Homo sapiens: one gene and its partners. The protein of the gene in region 1 purifies or fractionates together with the protein of each later gene. This does not show direct contact. Each region holds a gene or a part of one and is shown in the gene's direction. Other genes may lie near its edges. The genes, in order: HUNK, TRAPPC6B and TRAPPC10.

Evidence for each region.
Region 2: the proteins of HUNK (region 1) and TRAPPC6B purify together in Homo sapiens (affinity purification with mass spectrometry; one large-scale study listed by BioGRID and IntAct). This does not show direct contact.
Region 3: the proteins of HUNK (region 1) and TRAPPC10 purify together in Homo sapiens (affinity purification with mass spectrometry; one large-scale study listed by BioGRID and IntAct). This does not show direct contact.

What each region holds. Positions count from the first base shown.
Region 1 is NC_000021.9:32,001,923-32,004,623, forward strand, and holds the end of HUNK (hormonally up-regulated neu tumor-associated kinase), read left to right. Parts: 3' UTR 1-2,142; downstream 2,143-2,701.
Region 2 is NC_000014.9:39,156,710-39,160,365, reverse strand, and holds part of TRAPPC6B (trafficking protein particle complex subunit 6B), read left to right. Parts: intron 1-815; coding exon 816-883; intron 884-1,963; coding exon 1,964-2,081; intron 2,082-2,449; exon of another isoform or gene 2,450-3,244; intron 3,245-3,656. UniProt on the Homo sapiens protein: Component of a transport protein particle (TRAPP) complex that may function in specific stages of inter-organelle traffic.
Region 3 is NC_000021.9:44,102,655-44,106,310, forward strand, and holds part of TRAPPC10 (trafficking protein particle complex subunit 10), read left to right. Parts: intron 1-123; coding exon 124-318; intron 319-638; coding exon 639-877; 3' UTR 878-3,656. UniProt on the Homo sapiens protein: Specific subunit of the TRAPP (transport protein particle) II complex, a highly conserved vesicle tethering complex that functions in late Golgi trafficking as a membrane tether.

The sequences.
Region 1 (2,701 bases):
ATAAGTAAGGACTATATTTATGTCACCATTATTAGATATATGTACTTTTGTAATGACTGTGAAATACACTTTTCCCTCACTACGACTGCTTCTTTATTTGCTGATAAATCTTAAAACAACTAAGTACGTTGCAAATAATAGTACAGGTACCATCTTTTATGTGAAGTTCTTTTTCTTTTTTTGAGACAGGGTCTTGCTCTGTCACCCAGGCTGGAGTGCAGTGGCACAATCACAGTTCACTGCAGCCTCAACCTCTCCAGATTCAAGTGATCCTCCCATCTCAGCCTCCCAAGTAGCTGGGACTACAGTTGTGCACCACAATGCCTAGCTAATTTTTTTTGTATTTTGTAGAAATGGGGTTTCGCCATGTTGCTCAGGCTGATCTCAAACTCCTGGGCTCCAACGATCTGCCCACCTTGGCCTCCCAAAGTGCTGAGATTACAGGCGTGAGCCACTGTGCCTGGCCTTATGTAAAGCTCTTGACCTAGCATCTGACTGGAAACAAGCGGGAATTGCATTGGGGGGCATTTTCTGGGCCAGTTTCCCTGCCTTATTTTACCTGCAATAGGTGTGCCTACAAAAGTCTTTCTGACATACACACTGCAGGTGGCAGTTCAAGAAGAATCAACCTTTTTCATTTGGGGATATTAGGATCTTCCTTGGAGACTCTGAAAATGGCACACAAAGAATGGCAGTTATGAACGTGACTTCTAGATTTTGTCCTTGTAGGAGGCCTTGGTCATGGATAGGGGAAGAGGGATGATGGGATGGAATGGGAGGGTGGGATCTAGATGACCTCTTGAAATTGTCCCAGTTACTGCTTCCTTCATAACTGTTCACAAAACGTTTTTCATATATACCACCTTGTTTCCCCTGGGAAGTGAGGGGACGAAGCCTTAGAGGGTGACATAGCTAGAAAGTGGAGAAGCTCACTGTTCACTGTGCAAAGCCCCAGTAGTCGGATTCCGGGGAAAAGAACAAGTATCTAGTTTTGATGACAATGTTTTCTTGTAAGAATCCCAACACTTTAGAATAGAAAAGGACCTAAGATTCTCTGGCTCAGCCCCAGCCTTTCTGAAGAAGGGAAAACTAGGGACCCAGATGGTTTAAGGACACCCCAGAGTCCCCAGATGAGCTGGCATTTGAGCTGGTCTGGAGCAGAGTTTCTCCCTCAAAGAACACAGAGAAATCAGAGAGTGGCTGCCATGGTCAGAGGGGGATGTCAACAACAGATCAAGCCGTCATCACAACAGGTATTTCTGAAGTTCCTGCAGGGACTAGGTCTTGCATTTTTAAGTCCTTTTCAAAACTGTGCAGCTTCCTGAACCTTATGCTGTTTGTCCCATCCACTCTTGAAGCTGGGGAAAGACAGCTTTCTTTGGGAACTCTGTCTTTCTCAGTTGACTTCCCAAGTAAGCAGCAAACCCCTGGATAGCCTTGTTATCTACTTTAGGTATTAAGAGGCTATTGGGTTTTACTAGATTAAATCAATAAAACATTTCCTATAGAGCCATATCATACACTGAAGCAAATTCAGAAAGAATGCAAAACTGCTATCTTTTGGGGGAGTCTGGAAGCCTGTTGGTTAGTGTATTTATTTTCTTTGTGGGGTCTTCTGTGAGCTACAGGCACAGTAAGAATAATTCAGAGCGGTACTGGGAGTTGGTTCAATTTCATGTCATCACTTTTCAATGAAGGGAGTGCATTTCCTGAGTAGTAAATGAGTATATTATTTGTGGCAGCTTTTCTGTTAAGGGAGCTTTCCAGACATCTGGTTGCAAAGACAAATAGGATATATATTTGTACTTCTTCTCTGTGGACATGTTTTTGTGACACACAGTTATCTCTAGGAGTTGACGTCTGTGGGCACTAAGGGACTGAGGTTGGGGGAGAAAGCTGAGGAGGCTTTGGAAGAGAAGGTGAGGAGCATTTCAGGATTTGCAGTCCCCCTCCACATGTATCCACATCTGAGCTGGTGGTGTTCCAATAATGAGGCATTTGGGGCAACCAATTTTGGAAGGATAGAATAGCTTTATGTGGAGCAAACTTGAGGATCAATTGGAGTTGAGTGGTTTAAAACTTAAAGATGGCACAGGAAGCTGTATCATTTACAGGTGAAAAAAATAAATGGGTCTGACTTCAGGGCCTCAGCTCTTTGTATTTCCTACTTGGAAGATGGGCTATTAGCAATTTTGAAAGCAAAGGCTTTGGTTTACATTTAAACTCTATAATTTTTTTTAAAAATGTGTTCTTTCTAGTCTTGTTACCATAGCCAGCTGGAAAGGGCAAATTGCAAGCCTATATTGGGAACAAGTCTTCTTGCCGAAAGTAGGGCAGTGAAGTTCTTGGCAGATCTGAGATGAGAATGCCTTCCCCTGACTCCTTCATCAGTGTTCAGTGCTCACCTCCTCTGGCAACCAGTATGCTAGAAGATTAGGCTTTGCTATGATCACAAATTAATTCCAAATCTCTGTGACTTGCCCAATAAAGGTTTATTTCTTAAAATATTTTTATGAGGCTGGGCTGACCACAAAACGGCTGTCTTCCATATGGTGACTCAGGGATCCAGGCTACATCCAACTTGTGGCTGTGTCCCCTCAAAATGAAACGTCTTTGGCTGCTCCAGCACAGGAAGGCACGGCTGGAGAGTTTTCCACCAGCCCTTAAACATTCTATGAGGGGACTCATCACTTCTCCCACA
Region 2 (3,656 bases), on another chromosome or scaffold:
GCTCAAGTGATCCTCCTGCTTTGGCCTCCTAAAGTGCTGGGATTACAGGCATGAGCCACCGTGTCTTGAGGGGTTTGTTTCTATTAAAAGACTTGGTGTCAGGGAGGAGCACAAAGCTTTAACCCATTGAACCTCTGACAGTTAAGATGGTGTTGGGTTAGGTTACATCTGGTTACTATCCTGGGAAAATCACTTCTATAGAGATGGCCTTCCAAGTGGTTTTAAAATGTATCTTTCTGTCTGGGCGCGGTGGCTCACGCCTGTAATCCCTGCACTTTGGGAGGCCAAGGCAGGTGGATTGCTTGAGGTCAGGAGTTTGAGACCAGCATGGCCAACATTTTGTATTTTTGTATTTTCTCTACTAAAAATACAAAAATTAACCAGGCATGGTGGTGGGTGCTTATAATTCCAGCTACTTAGGAACCTGAGGCAGGAGAATCACTTGAACCCTGTAGATGGAGGTTGCAGTGAGCCGAGATGGCCCCACTGTACTGCAGCCTGGATGACAGAGCGAGACTCCATCTCAAAATAAATTAAAAAAATGTATCCTTCTATTGAAGTTTTTAGGTTAATCATGTATATGTTGACTAAATTATGAATTAACTTGTTTATCAAAAAAAAAGTAAAAAGTAAAGTAAGTAAAAGTAAAGTAAAATAAATAAAATCAACCTTATAATTCACTTTTTCTTAAACTGTTTCAGGGAAAAAAGTATAAATGTTTACATTAATATTTTTAACCAATCTTGTAAAACAATTTCTGAATACTAACATCCTAGCATTCTAAAAGTATTTAAAACTATTGTTTTTTAAAATAGGAAAACGGACGATGTATTACTAAGCTGGAAAACATGGGGTTTCGAGTGGGACAAGGATTGATAGAAAGGTGAGCAGGTTGGATTTGAAAATTTTCTTGCAGGTAGGTTATAAACAAAGGTGATCTATTTCAAAAGATTGCATAAAACTTGGGATATTTTAATTTTAATTCCTGAATGTTATTCTCTTTACTTCAAAAATTAAAATTTCTTTTTAGATCCAATGCCATTTAACTCATTTATTCAAATTTTATTTTAATGTTTAAAGAAAATATATATTTTATATATTTTAGACTTTCTTCCTGAAGCTATTTTAGACTTTATTCCTGAAGCTATTGAAGCAACTATCTAAAATCTTACTGCATTTTCAACTTAAGATCTGCTAGGTTCTTTAACCTGCATAGAATTTTTAAGTACATAGGTTTGAAATAACTATAGTCTATGTTTATGCGTGTAATTATCTTTGAACTTATAAATCAGTTCTTTTTAGTATTTCTTTCTCACTACCTGAATAGTTAAACTCGGAGTATATTTTATATAACAATGTCATGATAATGCTCAGCTCTTTGTTCTTTTGTGGTTTTTTGATGTGCTAGAATGCATTGCACCTGAAATTTTGGCTATAATGTTAGACTAATTTGAGGCCTCATAATTTATATAACATAATGTGAATCCATTGAGATAGGATCATGTTACCTGGTGCTTATGACTTTATTAGTGTTAATAAATGTTCAGCCAGGTGTGGTGGCTCATGCCTGTAATCCCAGCACTTTGTGAGGCCAAGGTGGGAGAATCTCTTGAGCTCAGGAGTTTGAGACCAGCCAGGGTAACAAAGTGGAACCCTGTCTCTACAAAGATATACAGATTAGCTGAGCATGGTGACATGTGCCTGTGGTCTCAGCTGCTAGGGAGGCTGAGGTGGGAGGATAGCTTGAGCCTGGGAGGGAGGTAGACGTTGCAATGAGCCGAGATTATGCTATTGCACTCTAACCTGGGCGACAGAGCCAGAATCTGTCTCAAAAAAAAAATTAAAATTAAAAAACCCAATAAATGTTCAGTGCTGTTCTGGCATTTGGAAATTAGTTAATAATTAGTCCCTCTTGCTTTTTTTGGAGGAGAAATACTGTATTACTTCTAGTTGATCTTTTTAGGTTTACAAAAGATACTGCAAGGTTCAAGGATGAGTTAGATATCATGAAGTTCATTTGTAAAGATTTTTGGACTACGGTATTCAAGAAACAAATCGACAATCTAAGGACAAATCATCAGGTAATTAAATTAATTAAGGCCTATATTTTAAAGTCCTTTAACTTGATATAAATATCGTATTTTAGTGACTTATTTAAAACCTAAAATAATTTCTGGTTAACTTTGGAATATGTTTATGTTATTAATGAGTTATTAGTTTTTTTCTTCTAATAGTGTGAACTGAGTAAAGACAAAGGGACAGTTATCAGTAATGATAGCTGTTCCTTTCACCCAATTATATGCTATGTTAAGTTTTTTAAAGTAGCATAAGTCAGGATGAGAATAGCTTTTACTATTTGGTTCCTTAGTTACTGTTAATTAGTGGTAATAATATGCAGAACCACAAATATATCACCTTTATGTCTTTAGAGTCATTTCTTTTTTTTGAAGAAGAAGAATTTGGATTATTTTAATTATTTTTATATACAGAAAACTCAACAGTGTATGTTTAACCCAGTTTGGTGTCAAGTTCTTTAGCCTTTGCCTTTTCCTGCTTGACAATTCAAGCCACAGACTTGAGACCCAGGACATTGCCTCCCCAGTGACAGTGGATTTCGTTTTGTCTGTCGTAATTGGTTCTGATAGCTTCCACCAGCTGAACCTAAGCTCCATTGTCCTCTGAGTTAATCTGTGTAAAGGCGACAGTGGTGCGGGTCTTCTTGTGGATTAGACATCCCAGTCTTGCCTTCCCCTTGATAATGCGGTAAGGGACCCCCATTTTATGACACAAGGCAGGCAGGAAGACAGCCACCTCGATGGGATCCACATAGTGTGCAGTCACCACCAGCTGAGCCTTCTTGTTCTCCTCCAAGGTGGAGATGGTGTTAACTCCTGCTCGGAGGACAAGTGGTCTCTTAGTGGGGACATCCCCTTTGCCTGCAGCTTTCTTTTCAGCCCGGGCCAATAGCCTCTGCTTATTTTCTTGCTTTGTCTTTGGTCTGTACTTGTGGGCCAGCTTAAGCAGCTAAGTAGCTATTTGGCGGTGCAGGGCCTGGGTGAACTGGTTAATTGTAGGAGGCACTTTCAGCTGCTTACAGAGGATGGCTTTGTGCCACTGCAACCTGATATAGCGGGGCCATTTCACAAAGTGAGTGAGGTCCATATTGGGTGGATGTCCTGTCCAATGCCAGAATTCTTAGGCCTTTTCTCAAACAGGGGATTCACCACTTTCTTTCTTTCTTTTTTTTTTTTTTTTTTTTGAGATGGAGTCTTGCTGTGTTGCCCAGGCTAGAGTGCAATGGTGCGATCTCGGCTCACCACAACCTCCGCCTCCTGGGTTCAAGCCATTCTGCCTCAGGCTCCCAGGTAGCTGGGACTACAGGCATGTGCCACCACTCCGGCTAATTTTTGTATTTTTAGTAGAGGTGGGGTTTCACCATGCTGGCCAGGCTGGTCTCGAACTCCTGACCTCAAGTGATCCGCTTGTCTCGGCCTCCCAATGTGCTGGGAGTACAGACGTGAGCCACCACGCCCAACCAGGATTCACCACTTTCTTGGCCTCCTGTTTCTTCATGACACCAAGGGCCAGAGCCACCTCCTTCCTCTTGGCCTTTCCTTTTGGCATCTTGGGTGGCAGGAAGAGATTCTTTATAGTCA
Region 3 (3,656 bases), about 12 Mb from region 1:
CTCTGTGTCCGCAGTGTTTTGTCAGACAGCGTTGGGTGAGAGGATTGGGTAACGACGGCCGTGACTCTCGCCTGAGTACTGGAAGGCCCGTCCTGGATGACACATCGCTTCCTCTCGTTTCAGTTGTCGACAACAGTAGCAACTGGGCAGTGTGTGGGAAAAGCTGCGGTGTCATCTCCATGCCAGTGGCTGCTCGGGCCACTCACAGGGTCCACATGGAAGTGATGCCGCTCTTCGCCGGGTATCTCCCCCTGCCCGACGTCAGGCTGTTCAAGTACCTCCCCCATCATTCTGCACACTCCTCCCAACTGGACGCTGGTAAGGACTTTGGAAGAAAAAGTTTACCTTCAGTATTTGAGCAGGTGAGCACTTTGTGCGAGAGGTGATAAACTTATGACTGAGCAGGTTGGAGAACTAGCGGCGTGTTTTCAGTGCCGGTAGAAACTGGTACTAGAAGCCTCATCCGCTGTTAGAATCTTAGGCACCTGCTCTGAAAGCCAAGCCTCTGTGCACAGAGTGCTCTGTAAAGGGGCAGCCTCGGGTGGCATTCTGCACGTTCAGCCTGGCTCCGTGTGGCTTTGCCCGTCCCCAGGTGAGTGTCGGCGCAGCTTGGGTCTAACTTCCTGTGTGTTTTGCAGACAGCTGGATAGAAAACGACAGCCTGTCAGTAGACAAGCACGGGGACGACCAGCCGGACAGCAGCAGCCTCAAGAGCAGGGGCAGCGTGCATTCGGCCTGCAGCAGCGAGCACAAAGGCCTACCCATGCCCCGGCTGCAGGCACTGCCGGCCGGCCAGGTCTTCAACTCCAGCTCGGGCACACAAGTCCTGGTCATCCCCAGCCAAGATGACCACGTCCTGGAAGTCAGTGTAACATGACAACGCCAGGGTGAACACACGCCACTTCCCAGCTAGGAGTGCACTTTATGGGACTGTGACTGGACTCTTCCGTTCTGGCTCCAGCCAGACCTTCAGTGGTCCTGCCTGGCCGTGGGGACATCAGAGAGTGTCATCACGCAGCTGGCCAGCTGAGTTCTGTTGTTGTTTTCATGCCGCCTGTGATCTCAGATTCCTGCTTTTCTCACCCCGTCCCCATGCTGGTGTCCGACGCCGCTTACTCAGAGCCCTGGCCTCCCTCCCCCTACCTCACACGCTGCTCATGAAAGTTTCCACCCACGCTGTCTCCACGGAACAGCCTCCGTCTGCTGGCTCTTCGTGGAAGGCCATTTGTCTTTCAGGTAGACACTCAGCAGCCCTCACGGTCTTAGTGACGTGTGTGCCTTTCTGGTCACACAGCTGCCCAGTTTCCTGATCGGGGTGGATTTGTGTCCCCTAAGGGGTAAAACAGCCGTTTACCGCAGATCCTCTCATTGTGCTTTTCTAGAATAACACCCTTCTAGGGGAGGCGGGTGGGGGAGGGAGGGATCATAACCCCTTCTGTGCCTTGGGATGCCGGAGCTGGGGGACCTGGAGGCCCATCAGCCGGAGCCACGTGAAAGGTACTGAAGAAAGCTGAGACCCGGCTGTGAGGAGCGCCTCAGCGGTGAGGTGGTTTAGGGATAAATGTTTCTGGAACCCTGTGGTCCCCCATAATGTTGATAGAATATCATATGCACTGGGAGTTAAATATATTTAATTTAATGATCATTATATATGTGGGGGTTAATATGTTGTTTTTCTGTCCCTTTAAAGTCTTTACATGTAATTGTAGCTGTATAATCGTTATTTTTCTTTTGCATCTTAAGTCTTAGAAATTAAGATATTCCATCGTGAGGATGAGAGAGGTCCTCAGTGTGTTTTTGGTCTGGTTGTAGGGAAGGACTCAAGTCCTGGAATGTCCTCCACTGGTCTACTGAGTTGCAGTCACACTGTTCCAATGGATTATTTGCTTTCGGTTGTAAATTTAATTGTACATATGGTTGATTTATTATTTTTAAAAATACAGACTAACTGATGTAATGTTTATGTATAAGTTGCACCAAAAATCAAGGACAAAAATAAGTGTGTTTGTTTTTACAGGTGTGAAAGTCACAGCTTGTAAATAAGTGTTGTATGTATTAAACCTTTTCCAGTTCTCCAAAGCGATGTATTTTTGTACACTTGAAATAGAGTACTCTTAATTTACTGGGCAAATGTGCTTGGAATTGAACTTGACAAGATTAGCTCAAGCAGATAGAGTCGGGTCCAGCAGTGGGTGGCCCTCGTGTGAATCCCCGTGGATGTGCAAGTTGTGGAGAGAAGGAGCACCGGGTTCCTGCCCAGCACTGTGCTTGCGGGAGGCGGTGGGGCATGGGAGGAAGGAGGCACAGACCGGGGAAATATGACAGCCGTCATTTCCAGTATTCTCTGTGTTGTCTTTTAGCTCATTCAATAAATAAAGGTGGTGTGATTTTTTTTTCCTCCTGTCTTTTTCATTTGTAGAAACTGGAGACGTGTAAAGAAGATAAATAATTGTGTAATTAAACTTTCCAGAAATTTATCTTCCTCATGTGCAGTTTAACAAACTTGGTCAAACTAGTTAGCAAATTAGAACTTCAGAATCTAATGATAGTTTAGGGTTTCTAAAATAAGGTTTTTTATTGTAAAAATTGACGATTGCCCTGCATTTCTACCAAGTCCTGTGAATAAAGAGATGGGAGATTTGATTCCGTCAGAAGAGACTGTAATCCGTGTCGTCAGCCTGGGAGCCTTCCCCAGTGTAATGTAGCTTTCTCTCTTACCTTCTGGAAGAGGGAATGTTTCATTTATTACTGTTTGATTTTCTTGTATCTGGTTCTACTCCCAGGATGAAATTATCCAACTACATATATATTTAGAGGAAGAAAGTGAAGGGGAAATTTAAAATGTTTACGGCGCTTAATTGCCTGGAAATGAAATGAAATCAAATTTATCAGTTTTTTTCCCCCTAATTACCCAAAAGATCTTTTGCAAACTATGTTACATGAATGCTTCTGCCTCTTTAAGACAAAGAAGAATGTCACCCAAAATTGTCATTTTTTTCTTAATGTTCATCATAAAAGTCCTAAAAGAGTAACTGTAATTGGATGTTTATTGTTTTTATCTAAAGTAAGGTGTATGTGTTTGAGACAAGCTGGTTTTGTTGATAAAGAGATGTTAAATAATTGTGAAGCCAGATATGCAATGTGTATCTGAAAAGCAAGGAATTTGCAGCCGTTTTACAAATATCTGTGGAACATGTAAATACTGTCAAATGGAAAATAAAATAAGTTATAATTTTTGTGAATTTCATGGGATGTCCTATGATTGGAAAAATTATAACTCTTCTGATTCTAATGTGGAAATTGTTGTATTTAATCTGAAAATGACTTTACCTACAACAGTTCCATTGTCAGCACAGCCTAGGAAGGTCAGATCCTGTATTAATTACTCTTAGTGGAGATGCCAGATATCCCATACAGAATTAGCAGAGAAAATACACACAGGCTTCTATTCAAATTTTCTTTAGTGCTTAAAATTAAGTTTTAAAATGAAATCAGACACTGCAGGTTTGTATATAAAATGAAAAGCTATACTACTTTTTACAAAAGGGCAAACTGGGCTGATGTAAATGTTTTACTTTCAACTGTGTTCTTTAAAATAAATCCTACCTGGTTTTTAAATTTTATTTTTCATGAAAATGCTCCTTTCTCTACATTTA